Linked DNA regions of Homo sapiens. Each later gene encodes a partner of the first gene's protein in a complex. Each region holds a gene or a part of one and is shown in the gene's direction. Other genes may lie near its edges.

Region 1 (3,748 bases):
GTAAAATAGGGATAATACAGCACATACTTCATAGGCTTTTTGGGAGGATGAAATGTGTGAATATGTGTAATATGTTTTGAACAGTACATAGCACTTAGTAAATGCTGTATGAGTGTTTGCTGCTTACTATTATTATTTGAGTGCTTTTAGATTTAACCAGTAATTGATTGATCTTAGGGATCAGGGTTGTTAATCTTTAATGCTGTATTAGTTAGTATGGGTGCTTCTTAGTGCATAAAAGGGAAAGGAGAAGGAAAAAGGAGATATAAAAGGAAGTTGAATAAAGAAGGATAAATATGGCTGGCTGCGGTGGCTCATGCATGTAATCCCAGCACTCTGGGACTTTGGGAGGCCGAGGTGAGTGGATTGCTTGAGTCCAGGAATTCAAGACCAGCCTGGGTAACAGTGAGACCCGTCTCTTAAAAAAACAAAAACCAAACAAAAACCCAGCCGGGCATGGTGGCATGCGTCTGTGGTTCCAGCTACTTGGGAGGCCAAGGTGGGAGGATTGCTTGAGTCTGGGAGGTGGAGGTTGCAGTGAGCTGAGGTTGTGCCACTGCACTCCAGCCTGGGTGACGGGAGTAAAACCCTGTCTAAAAAAAAGAAAAATATACTGCAGATAATTTTGATGAGGAGCGGGAGAGTGTATATTTCATGTGAGTTACTCACACTAATGTAGTTTCATGTTCTTTTGTTTCGTGATTTTTGCATCCAATCAACAACTCACAGTGTGTCAGTCTAGAAGTGCTCAGTGCTAGAAGTATAGTGGTGCATGAGGTAGTATAGGTTCATTTACAGGGATGTTAATAGGCATTTATAAATTGTTATGATTAATTGTTGTGAATGGTGCTATAGGAGCATGGTGGCATCTGACCAAGAGTTAGGTGGTTCTGTATTTTTATGTTTAATTATAACCCCTTTAGGATTATAATTTAAATTAATTTAAATATAAATCTTAAAATTTAGGTACATATTGGGTGGTGTTTCTTTTTATTCTTTCAGAAAACTGTTAAAGTATTTCATTGAATCTAAGATTCCAATTTCATAGAAGTCAAAATGTGGGGGAAAAATGGCTGATAATGATTCTAAGAGACTCAAAGATACATTCTGACTTTAGAGATGTTAACATGAAAAAAAGCATCTCAAATTAATGACTCTTTGGTACTTGTAATTGATAGCTTCTTAAAATGGAGGAGGACTCTAGTAAGAGAAGCTATAGTATCTGTTTATAAGTCAGTATGCTTTAGAGCAATCTGACTTTTTCATTATAAAAATGTAGGTTTTGGACTAGGCATTCTGGTGCTAAAACAGCTGCTGAGGCCAGCGATCACCCTGTTCTTTGTTCAGTTCCTCACGTTACTCATATAATTACCGTGTGATCGTGTGGTGCTCTGCTGCTTGTTGGTCAGAGCCTGAGTAAGGCTGAATAAGGCTGGATCATGAACCATTCTTTAAAGCAGTGGCCTTTGTATTGCAGTCTAGTTGACATACATGCATACATACAGGTGTGTGTGCACGTGTAACTGAAGAACAGCTTTCACAAAATAATATTTAGCACACTGTGGAATTTTCTCTGATACAGCCTCTTCTCTTTCATGATAAAAATAAATTCGCTGATTATCACACCACTTTGGACCTTTTAAAAATAACACTTAAGAAGTTGGAATAGCCAGGGATCAGAAACTTAGAAATGGACCTTATTTGTTATTGTAACTTATAGCAAGTCATTGTGTCTCTTATTGGGTTCTTTTAGCCATAATAATTGTGCTAGTTCTTTTCTTGCTCTGAGTGCCTGAACCTGTTGCTAAGTGAGGAAGAAAAATCCATATGTAAGTATAAATAAACAAATGTCTTTAATCTTTTTGCAGGTCATCATCAGATTTGAAATATTTAAAGTGGATACAAAACTATTTCAGCAATGCAGACAATTAAGTGTGTTGTTGTGGGCGATGGTGCTGTTGGTAAAACATGTCTCCTGATATCCTACACAACAAACAAATTTCCATCGGAATATGTACCGACTGTAAGTATAAAGGCTTCCTTCTGTTAGTAAAATGTTGTAAAATTTGATATCCTTTTGAAAACGCTTTCTCTATGTGTACTGAATTTTTTTCTGTTGTCTGCCTTTGTTTCCTGTTTTTAAAGATCTTGACTTCTCATGGGTAAATTATATACACTTTAAACAGCTGAAAAATCAGTGGAAAGTCAGAAGGGGTGACACAGGGTTTGCAAGAAGTGCTGGGAGGCAAAACTCCAGTAGACAAGATTCTAACGAGTGGTGGTCTCAATTTGGTGAAGTATGCCCTACATCTTGGAATGAGGTGACTTTTTTTTTTTTTTTTTTGATATTTTGGCCAATTATTGATCAGTACTTGGAGGTCTCCTGGGATACCATTTGAGGTCCTGTAACTTGAGAGAAAGTAGTATGTGTCTCCACTTTTCTTGTGGAGCTGTTCGCTTAGCAGTAATGGAGCTCCAAACTGGTTCTTAGGGGCAGAGAAGAGAAGACCTGTTATGTTTCGAGAACACCAACAGAGTCCTTTGGGGGTCACTCCCACAACTGTTCTTTTCTTTTTTTCTTTTTTTTTTTTTTTTTGAGATGGAGTCTCTATCGTCCATTCTATCTGGAGTGCAGTAGCGCGATCTCGGCTTGCTGCACCCTCCGCCTCCCGGGTTCAAGCAGTTCTCCTGCCTCAGCCTCCTGAGTAGCTGGGATTACAGGCGCCCGCCACCACGCCTTTCTAATTTTTGTATTTTTAGTAGAAACGGGGTTTTACCATGTTGGCCAGGCTGGTCTTGAACTCCTGACCTCAAATGATCCACCTGCCTCAGCCTCCCAAAGTGCTGGGATTACAGGCGTGAGCCACCATGCCTGGCCCCATAACTGTTTTTTAAATCAACTCTTTGGAATGGTAGAAGGAAGATGGGAATAACAAAAATATTGAAGTGAGAGAGAGACAAGAGTTAGAGTAACACTCATTTGTGAAAGGTAGTGAGACCCTGTCTCAAAAATAAGGAAAGTTTTTTTTTTGAAGGGGGGAGAATTTGAAGGTATTATTAAACACTAAAATCATATTGATATTTTGAATTGGCTCATTTGGAGACAAGATAAATGGAAGACGTTTTGAGGTTCAGTGGACTTACAGGGGACATTTAGAGGTACATGAATCTTGTTTCAGAGTGAGGACAGCTATCAGAATTTTTCTGTTTCAGTCTCCATTGAAGTTATTTACTTGTAAACATAATTTCTGAGTCTTTTATGACTTTGATCTTCTGGTGTTATATTTTAAGTGGGCTTGTGGGTGTTTTATATGTATGTTTGTGTTGTACATCTCTGGAAAAGTGATAGAGTGGAAGGAAGAGTAGTAGTAGAATAAAATTTTAAATGAACCGATTTAGGTAAATGAATGGACCATGAGGCACAAGTAATGTTCTCATGGTACCTGTTGAAGTTAATATGGAAATGGATTTGGTGTAGAATGCATTTAAGTTCCCATCTATGAGTTGGGGCTTGCCATTTCTAGAGTAATAGAAATTCAGAGCTGGATGGGACAATATATATTGTCTTACCCATCTCTTAATGGATGAGGGTACTCAGGCCCAATTTAGGGATGAGACTTAGAAGTCTAAGTTTAATTACTTAGCGTAATTACACTAGCATAAGTAGACTTTGGAATGGAAGCCAGCTTTTCTGATTCTTAGTCTAGTTTTGGATATGAACAATCTAGTAAAGGAGGGTTGTTTTTGA
Region 2 (3,748 bases), on another chromosome or scaffold:
TTGAAGGCCACATCGGGGCTTGCCCTGATCAGCAGGTTGGAGGTGCTCCAGGCCCGAAGCTTAGCTGTGAGTGGGGACACGGGAGGGAGGTTGGAACTGCCACTGCAGAAGGGGTTCTGAACCTAGGTTCAGGAGAGAGGCTTTGAACCTGCACGTGTGGGAAGCCATGGAAGTTTCCAGGAAGGACTGCAGGTCCCAACTGGAGATGTGCCGTTCCTCCTTCAGGTACCTGGGAATGTCAGTCACACCCCAGACCTGCTCAGCTCCCCCAAACTGCTGTTCCTGTATCTGAGAGCTTCAAGTCTCCAAATGGCCTACCTCATACATGGGGAAACTGAGGCCTGGGGAGGCCGGGGACTGAGCTAGCATTCACTTGTGGAAATAGTCTGGCATCATCTGGAGAAGTTAGAGACATGCAAACCCTACAGCCCTCAGATTCCCGTCTGAGAGTCTGCATGCCTATGTGGACCAGGAGATGTGTGCGGGAGTGAACACTGCAGTGTTGCTCCCAACAGCAAGAACCAGAAGCAGCCCAAAGGGCTGTTACAGGAGAATATGGACACCCAGGCTGCACATGCACACCATGGAATGCTGTATGGCAGTGGAAATAAATGAACAGCTACCACTATAGGCAAACAGGAATCACAGCAACAGCCAAGAGTGAAGGCGTGGAGGGACGAGACCATGCACTCACACCTGGCCTGCCTGGCTCGCACTCCGGGCAAAGGGGTCAGAACAGTGACTGGCACACACGTTAAGTGCTATGTGAGTGTTAAGATAAAACTAGGATGTCCAGTGGGGAGAAAGCAAGCCTTTGAAGATTATGTGCTTTTACAAACTTCAAGTGCAATGAAAACTAAACAAGATGTTGTTCAGGCATTCATATATGATATAAAGTTCCTTTCTTTAAAAAAGGGATGGGCTGGGCACGGTGGCTCACGCCTGTAATTCTAATACTTTGGGAGGCCGAGGCAGGTGGATCACGAGGTCGAGAAATCGAGACCATCCTGGCCAACATGGTGAAACCCTGTCTCTACTAAAAATACAAAAAAATTAGCTGGGCGTGGTGGCGTGTGCCTGTAGTCCCAGCTACTTGGGAGGCTGAGGCAGGAGAGTCACTTGAACCCGGGAGGCAAAGGTTGCAGTGAGCCGAGATCGTGCCACCGCACTCCAGCCTGGCGACAGAGTGAGACTCCATCTCAAAAAAAAAAAGAAAAAAAAAAGTATGACAAGCAGAAAGTAATTTGGGAGCTGCGGGGAGGCAAGGGTAAGGGATGGGGAAGTGGACCAGAGGCATATGCGTCATTGGCAGTGTCTAAGCACTCACGATAGGCGTGGATCACAGGGGCTCGCTCTGTAATTAAAAGGAAAAGGGTTTTTGTTGTGTTGTTGTTGTTGCTGTTTTTGAGACAAGGGTCTTGCTCTGTCATCATCCAGGCTGGAGTGCAGTGGTGCAGTCTCAGCTCACTGCAACCTCCGCCTCCTGGGTTCAAGCGATTCTCCTGCCTCAGCCTCCTGAGCAGCTAGGACTACAGGTGTGTGCCACCATGCCTGGCTAATTTTTGTATTTTTTAGTGGAAATGGGGTTTTGCCATGTTGCCCAGGCTCGTCTTGAACTCCTGACCTCAAGTGATCCACTCGTCTCGGCCTCCCAAAGTGCTGGGATTACAGGTGTGAGCTATTGTCCCCAGCCAAAAGGAAAAGTTTTACTGTAGTAACCCTTCCGGACTAGGGACCTCGGGCCTCAGCCTCAGGCTACCTAGGTGCTTTAGAAAGGAGGCCACCCAGGCCCATGACTACTCCTTGCCACAGGGAGCCCTGCACACAGATGTGCTAAGCTCTCGCTGCCAGCCAGAGGGAGGAGGGTCTGAGCCAGTCAGAAGGAGATGGGCCCCAGAGAGTAAGAAAGGGGGAGGAGGACCCAAGCTGATCCAAAAGGTGGGTCTAAGCAGTCAAGTGGAGGAGGGTTCCAATCTGATGGCGGAGGGCCCAAGCTCAGCCTAACGAGGAGGCCAGGCCCACCAAGGGGCCCCTGGAGGACTTGTTTCCCTTGTCCCTTGTGGTTTTTTGCATTTCCTGTTCCCTTGCTGCTCATTGCGGAAGTTCCTCTTCTTACCCTGCACCCAGAGCCTCGCCAGAGAAGACAAGGGCAGAAAGCACCATGAGTGGGGGCCCAATGGGAGGAAGGCCCGGGGGCCGAGGAGCACCAGCGGTTCAGCAGAACATACCCTCCACCCTCCTCCAGGACCACGAGAACCAGCGACTCTTTGAGATGCTTGGACGAAAATGCTTGGTGAGCTGGGGATCTCCTGCCCCCGCCCCGTCCCCACCGTTTCTTCCTCTTCCTCTCCTCCTTCTCTCTCTTCCCCTCCTCCCGCTCCTCCTTTCCCTCTCCATCATCTCCTCTCCTAGAATTTCCCGTCATAATCCACCCTTCCCAGGAAGATCTCAATGTCTACTTGCCTTCCCTCTGGCTGCAGCTCTTCCTTTGGGCCCATGACTGTCATGAGGCAGGAAGGACCAGGTCTGGCTCCAAGACCTTGTGGCTACCCCTGACCAGACTCCACTGACCCCTGCTTTCCTCTCCCAGACGCTGGCCACTGCAGTTGTTCAGCTGTACCTGGCGCTGCCCCCTGGAGCTGAGCACTGGACCAAGGAGCATTGTGGGGCTGTGTGCTTCGTGAAGGATAACCCCCAGAAGTCCTACTTCATCCGCCTTTACGGCCTTCAGGTGACCCCCCCACCCCCGACTGGACTTGCAAGCCAGTTCTCAACCCGCAAACCCAGATCTGTGTCCATATGTGTCCATAGCTTCAAGACCTCAGACCTGATCAGTGAATCCCTGAGCCCCAGAACCAAAGACTCATCCAGATGGCAAACTCTGACTTGCCTTTCTAAGTCTGCAATGACTGGCCCCAGTCTCCGTATCAAGATCTCTAAAGCCCCCAGTATTAGTCTGCTGCCTAAGCCTAATCTTTTCCACAAATTCCAATAAATGAGCACTGTATTTGTACCTGAACCTCAAATCTATTCTAAACTCAACATTTTGCATCCCAGGAATCTCTCATCAAAACTCCTGAACCCCAGATGTTTGCCAAGCTCCTAAGTCATAAATCTGTTCAACAAACCCCAAAGTTGAATATTCCATTGATCCTTGAACTCCAAATCTGTCCTTCTAAATCCACAGCACAGACCCCAGAGTTCCCATATTAAAATTCCTGAACACTCAAATACCGAGGTAGTTCTTAAGCAAAAAGTCTTTTCCACAATCCCCTGACCTGAACTTTCTAGGTTTAAGCCCCAAATTCATCCTTTTAAACCCATAAAGATGGACCCAGCATAACTTCCAGATCCCAAGGCTATCAAATATCCACCAAACTCCTAAACCATAACTCTCTCCACAAACCCCAAATTGCACTTACTTTAGCTGGACTCCCCGCGAAACTCCCAAGTCTATGTGTCTGAACTTCAAATCTCAACTCCAACCCCCAAATACTAGAATCCTACCTGTCATGAATTGGGGCTGGGGTGGTGGGGGAGGGCATGGATTGAATCTGTGAATGAGCCTCAACTTCCTAAGACTAGAGTCCTAAATTATGAAATTCAAGCCCCCAAGTCCCAGATCTAGGGCCCCAAACCCCAAATCCAAACCTCTCACAAAAGTGTATGGCTCCCAGACTATACCCCACAATCCACACCCTTAGACACCAACTCTCTGGTGCTGAGCTGAAAATCTCCAAACCAGACT
Region 3 (3,748 bases), on another chromosome or scaffold:
GTGTGATAATCTCAACTTTGCTTTTCTTCATGAGTTGCTTAAGAAATCAGTTCAAACCATTTAATTGTGGACATCAATCTTGAAGGACAAGTTTTAAGTGGCAGATTTTTAAGTATGTATGTGGAGGGCAATGGAAATTGTGTTGGCATTATTGATACCAGTTCAACTTTCTTGTATAATAAAGATCATACGGGTGTTTTGGGAGGAAAACCAGATAGTAATACCGTATAGAAAAGTGTCTAAGCACCTCATTGTAAGTATGGCTAACATCAATAATTAACAGACTGTTTCAAGCTAGGAGAACAGTTCCTCCCAACTTCCAGCTCTAGAATATTTAAGGCCTCAGAGAGAAGTAAACAAAAATTAAAATGACAAAAGTCCATTTTATTTCTTGTTAGGAAAGCCTTAAGAGAGAACAAATCTATTCAATGACTATACCCTCCCTCCCCATCAGTTTATATGGGTTAAATTGTGCGAATATAAAAAATTAGTGGGTATGAATGGAAATGAGAGAATAAAAGACTAATGAATTAAGACTAGAGGGGTGAACTTTGAAAAGTAATCTTTTTAATAGAAAAAAATGGAGTTAGTGACTAGCAAAAATTGGATCCCAGTGTTAGGAGTTTAATCCTCCCAAGGATAGGTATCTTCAGTATCATTATAGTAATAGTTATAAAACTTACATTTAAGGGAAAAAATTACTGTCTTAGTGTATACATTTAAACCATTTGCTTCCCTGTATTGACCTTTCAGGTACAGCTGGAAGGTGAGATACACACACACACACACACACACACACACACACATATATGCATATGCCTTTGTGTGTGTGTATGTGCAATGTTTCTGTTATACTCTAACCTATGTATAATTTATATGGAAGTGTTTCATAAATTATAAAGTCAGCCACGTACTTCAATCTTTGTTCTTTTAGGATGTAAGGATGTATATATTTCATAGGTAATATTAGCCTGTGTTTTTTGGGGGTTCTTCATATCTGTAATAGCCATGTGGCCCTCCATTGTATTTATTAACCATTGTCTAATTTTGGGGGTTACATCAAGCTTGTCAACCACTGCCTGTGGGCCTCATGGGCCCAACGCAAATTCATAAACTTTCTTAAAACATTATGAGATTTATTTCATGATTTTTTTTTAAGCTCATCGGCTATCGTTAGTTTTTGTGTATTTTATGTGTGGCCCAAGACAATTCTTCTTCTTCCAAGTGTGGCCCAGGGAAGCCAAAAGATTGGACATCCTGGGTTACATACACACATCCACAAATACTCCCATGTCTTTTATTTTTAAAGATGATGATAAGAAGGTGGTTCTGGGTGGATGTGGTGAACAACTGATGGTTTTTGTCCGAGAATACCTGTTTCTACATTAGACACTGCATAATATTATTCACTCATTTTTGGCTTGCAGTCACTGTTTACAACTTAAAAGGCACACCCTTGGATGCCTTTGTTGAAGAGCTATCCTTAAAATTCTTTTGTTGAGTTTCAGAGGAAAGGACAATTTTAAGTCTGTGTCTTAGCTGCTGTATCTTGTGCAATATCAGGTGTCAGGCAGCACTGCAAACAGATTTAAAATTATTAGGAAGTAATGGTTTAGGGCAGTATTATATTTGGTATCAGGAACTGCTTTGGTATCTGATTAATTTGAGTCCATTTCCTTCTCATTTTTTTTCTGCATGTCCTGAGATTGAATGTGGTCATTTTGTTTTAGGAAGGAGTGGGAACATTTTCTGAGTATCTACTATGAGTAGGCCTTTTACATGTTCTCATTTAATGCTCACAGTAACTAATGCTATCAGCAATACTATAGATGCATAAGTAATGATTATTTAGGCTGGGCACAGTGGCTCACCCCTATAATCCCAGCACTTTGGGAGGCTGAGGTGAGAGGATCACTTGAGCCCAGGAATTCGAGACCAGCCTGGGCAACATAGTGAGATCCTGTCTCTATGAAAAAAGAAAAAAAAAGATTAGCCAGGTGTGGTGGCTTGCACCTGTAGTCCCACCTACACAAGAGGCTGAGGTGGGAGGATCATTTGAGTCCTGGAGGTCGAGGCTGAAGTGAGCTGTGTTCATACCATTGCATTCCAGCCTGGGTGACAAAGTAAGACCAGGTCTCAAAAAAGAAAAAGATATCTAAGTTGCCTAAAATTATACAGTTATTAAATAACCAATCTAGTCTTTCAGCAGAGATTTGGATCTGTTCCCTACTCCCCCTGGCCTTTCTTTTATATTATGCTTCCATAGGCTTAGAACTGGGAAGAAAAAAAGGGCCTGCGACTAGCAGTAAAAAATTCCTGTCTGGTTAGTGCAAATTTCAGACTGGATAAAGTTGGCAGAAATTCTTCAGAAGTGACTGAAGTGAGGTGCATTTGAAGTTTCTTCTCTTTAGATGTCAAGCCTTTTGGCATCTTCACTGTGCTCTTCTATTTTCAAGCATGGAGTTAAAAATTGATCTGGTCCAAAAAGGTGCTCTTCAGTTTTTCTTTTCAAGGCAGATTTGAAATACCTTGGCTGAAAAGTTTGTTCTCCAAATCAGAAGGAATAGGCAACCTGTCAGTGCAACGCATATACTCCAAATGCGAAACCTGTGAAAAGGAAAGGAAGGTCAAGTTGTTGTTTTTTTTGTTTGTTTTTCTTTTTGAGATGGAGTCTTGCTCTGTCGCCCAGGCTGGAGTGCAGTGGTGCAATATTGGCTCACTGCAACCTCTGCTACCCGGGTTCAAGTGATTCTCCTGCCTCAGCCTCCTGAGTAGCTGGGATTACAGGTGTGTGCCACCATGCCCGGCTGATTTTTGTATTTTTAGTAGAGATGGGGTTTCAGCATCTTGGCCAGGCTGGTCTTGAACTCCTGACCTCGTGATCCACCTGCCTCAGCCTCCCAGAGTGCTGGGATTACAGGTGTGAACCACTGTGCCCGGCCGGAAGGTCAAGTTTTAACATTTAAGTTTACTTCCCACTGCAAGGTGTTGCTCCCTTTCAGCCACTTCCAAGGAAAGCACTTGCCATAAAGTCTGTTAAGCAGATGGGCGGGTGGGAGTGTAGTGAGGCCATCAGATGCTGCTGATTTGTATTCTCACATTCTTTCTCCTGTTGTGAGGGGAAGAGAGTGTGGAAGAGGGGTGGTGGAGTGTTGGCACTTTGAACCATTACAGTTTCACCCTAGGCAGTAACTCCCTGAGCTGTTTTATTCTCCAAAGTGGGAATATATGGTTAGGGCTGTTATCATTATCAGGATGCATTTTTTCCTCCTAATAATACCAGTAAAAACTGTGACAATATATTGGGGTATCTAGGATAGAAGTTGATCAAATGCAAATGTTTGGCTCCAGGAAGAGACTGGCAACAGTGTAAAGTGATGAAATTTGGGGAGAGATGGTATGCGTGGCCTTAAATCCGTAAGTGATAAGAAGTACTTTGGCTTGTGGCCTGTCATTTAGCATTGGCCTGGGAGGCAGGAGACCTAGTTTCTAGAATCATATTTGCTGCACCAACTTGGACAAGTGAAACTCTTTCCTCTGGCCCTTGGTTTTCCTCCTTTGTGAATGGGAATAAAATTTGGCACAATTGTTAACATAGTCGTGAGATGATGGAAATCATACCACTTGAAAACAAAATTTCCAGAACATAATACATTGTGATTCATTAGTTGACATTGGCTTTTGAAGAGCTTTCAGGTGGAAATGTGTGTAGGGGTGTTCTGTGTGGTCTAAAGAGTAGAATTCCCCA

Evidence for each region.
Region 2: the proteins of CDC42 (region 1) and WAS are in contact, whole or in part, in an NMR structure (PDB 1CEE), measured with the Homo sapiens proteins. Residues at the interface, in NP_001034891.1 of Homo sapiens: Gln2, Tyr23, Thr24, Thr25, Val36, Phe37, Asp38, Asn39, Tyr40, Ala41, Val42, Thr43, Val44, Met45, Ile46, Gly47, Tyr64, Arg66, Leu67, Leu70, Lys153, Lys166, Asp170, Glu171, Ile173, Leu174, Leu177, Glu178, Pro179; in NP_000368.1 of Homo sapiens: Lys230, Lys231, Lys232, Ile233, Ser234, Lys235, Asp237, Ile238, Gly239, Ala240, Pro241, Ser242, Gly243, Phe244, Lys245, His246, Val247, Ser248, His249, Val250, Trp252, Phe258, Leu263, Asp264, Leu267, Leu270, Phe271, Ala274, Gly275, Ile276.
Region 3: the proteins of CDC42 (region 1) and FMNL2 are in contact, whole or in part, in a crystal structure (PDB 4YC7), measured with the Homo sapiens proteins. Residues at the interface, in NP_001034891.1 of Homo sapiens: Val36, Phe37, Asn39, Gln61, Glu62, Asp63, Tyr64, Asp65, Arg66, Leu67, Arg68, Pro69, Leu70, Pro73, Ser88, Glu91, Asn92, Lys94, Glu95, Lys96, Pro99, Glu100, Thr102, His103, His104, Pro106, Lys131, Asn132, Lys133; in NP_443137.2 of Homo sapiens: Ala41, Met42, Asn43, Leu44, Pro45, Lys48, Leu52, Tyr55, Lys59, Glu62, Leu63, Asp66, Gln67, Arg69, Phe70, Lys73, Tyr79, Arg108, Glu109, Ile112, Ser113, Leu114, Arg115, Thr116, Asn117, Ile119, Val122, Asp219, His222, Met226.

What each region holds. Positions count from the first base shown.
Region 1 is NC_000001.11:22,076,561-22,080,308, forward strand, and holds part of CDC42 (cell division control protein 42 homolog isoform 1 precursor), read left to right. Parts: intron 1-1,868; 5' UTR 1,869-1,918; coding exon 1,919-2,023; intron 2,024-3,748. UniProt on the Homo sapiens protein: Plasma membrane-associated small GTPase which cycles between an active GTP-bound and an inactive GDP-bound state. In active state binds to a variety of effector proteins to regulate cellular responses. Involved in epithelial cell polarization processes.
Region 2 is NC_000023.11:48,681,693-48,685,440, forward strand, and holds the start of WAS (actin nucleation-promoting factor WAS), read left to right. Parts: upstream 1-2,106; 5' UTR 2,107-2,161; coding exon 2,162-2,293; intron 2,294-2,590; coding exon 2,591-2,731; intron 2,732-3,748. UniProt on the Homo sapiens protein: Effector protein for Rho-type GTPases that regulates actin filament reorganization via its interaction with the Arp2/3 complex. Important for efficient actin polymerization. Possible regulator of lymphocyte and platelet function.
Region 3 is NC_000002.12:152,338,048-152,341,795, forward strand, and holds part of FMNL2 (formin-like protein 2), read left to right. Parts: intron 1-3,748. UniProt on the Homo sapiens protein: Plays a role in the regulation of cell morphology and cytoskeletal organization. Required in the cortical actin filament dynamics.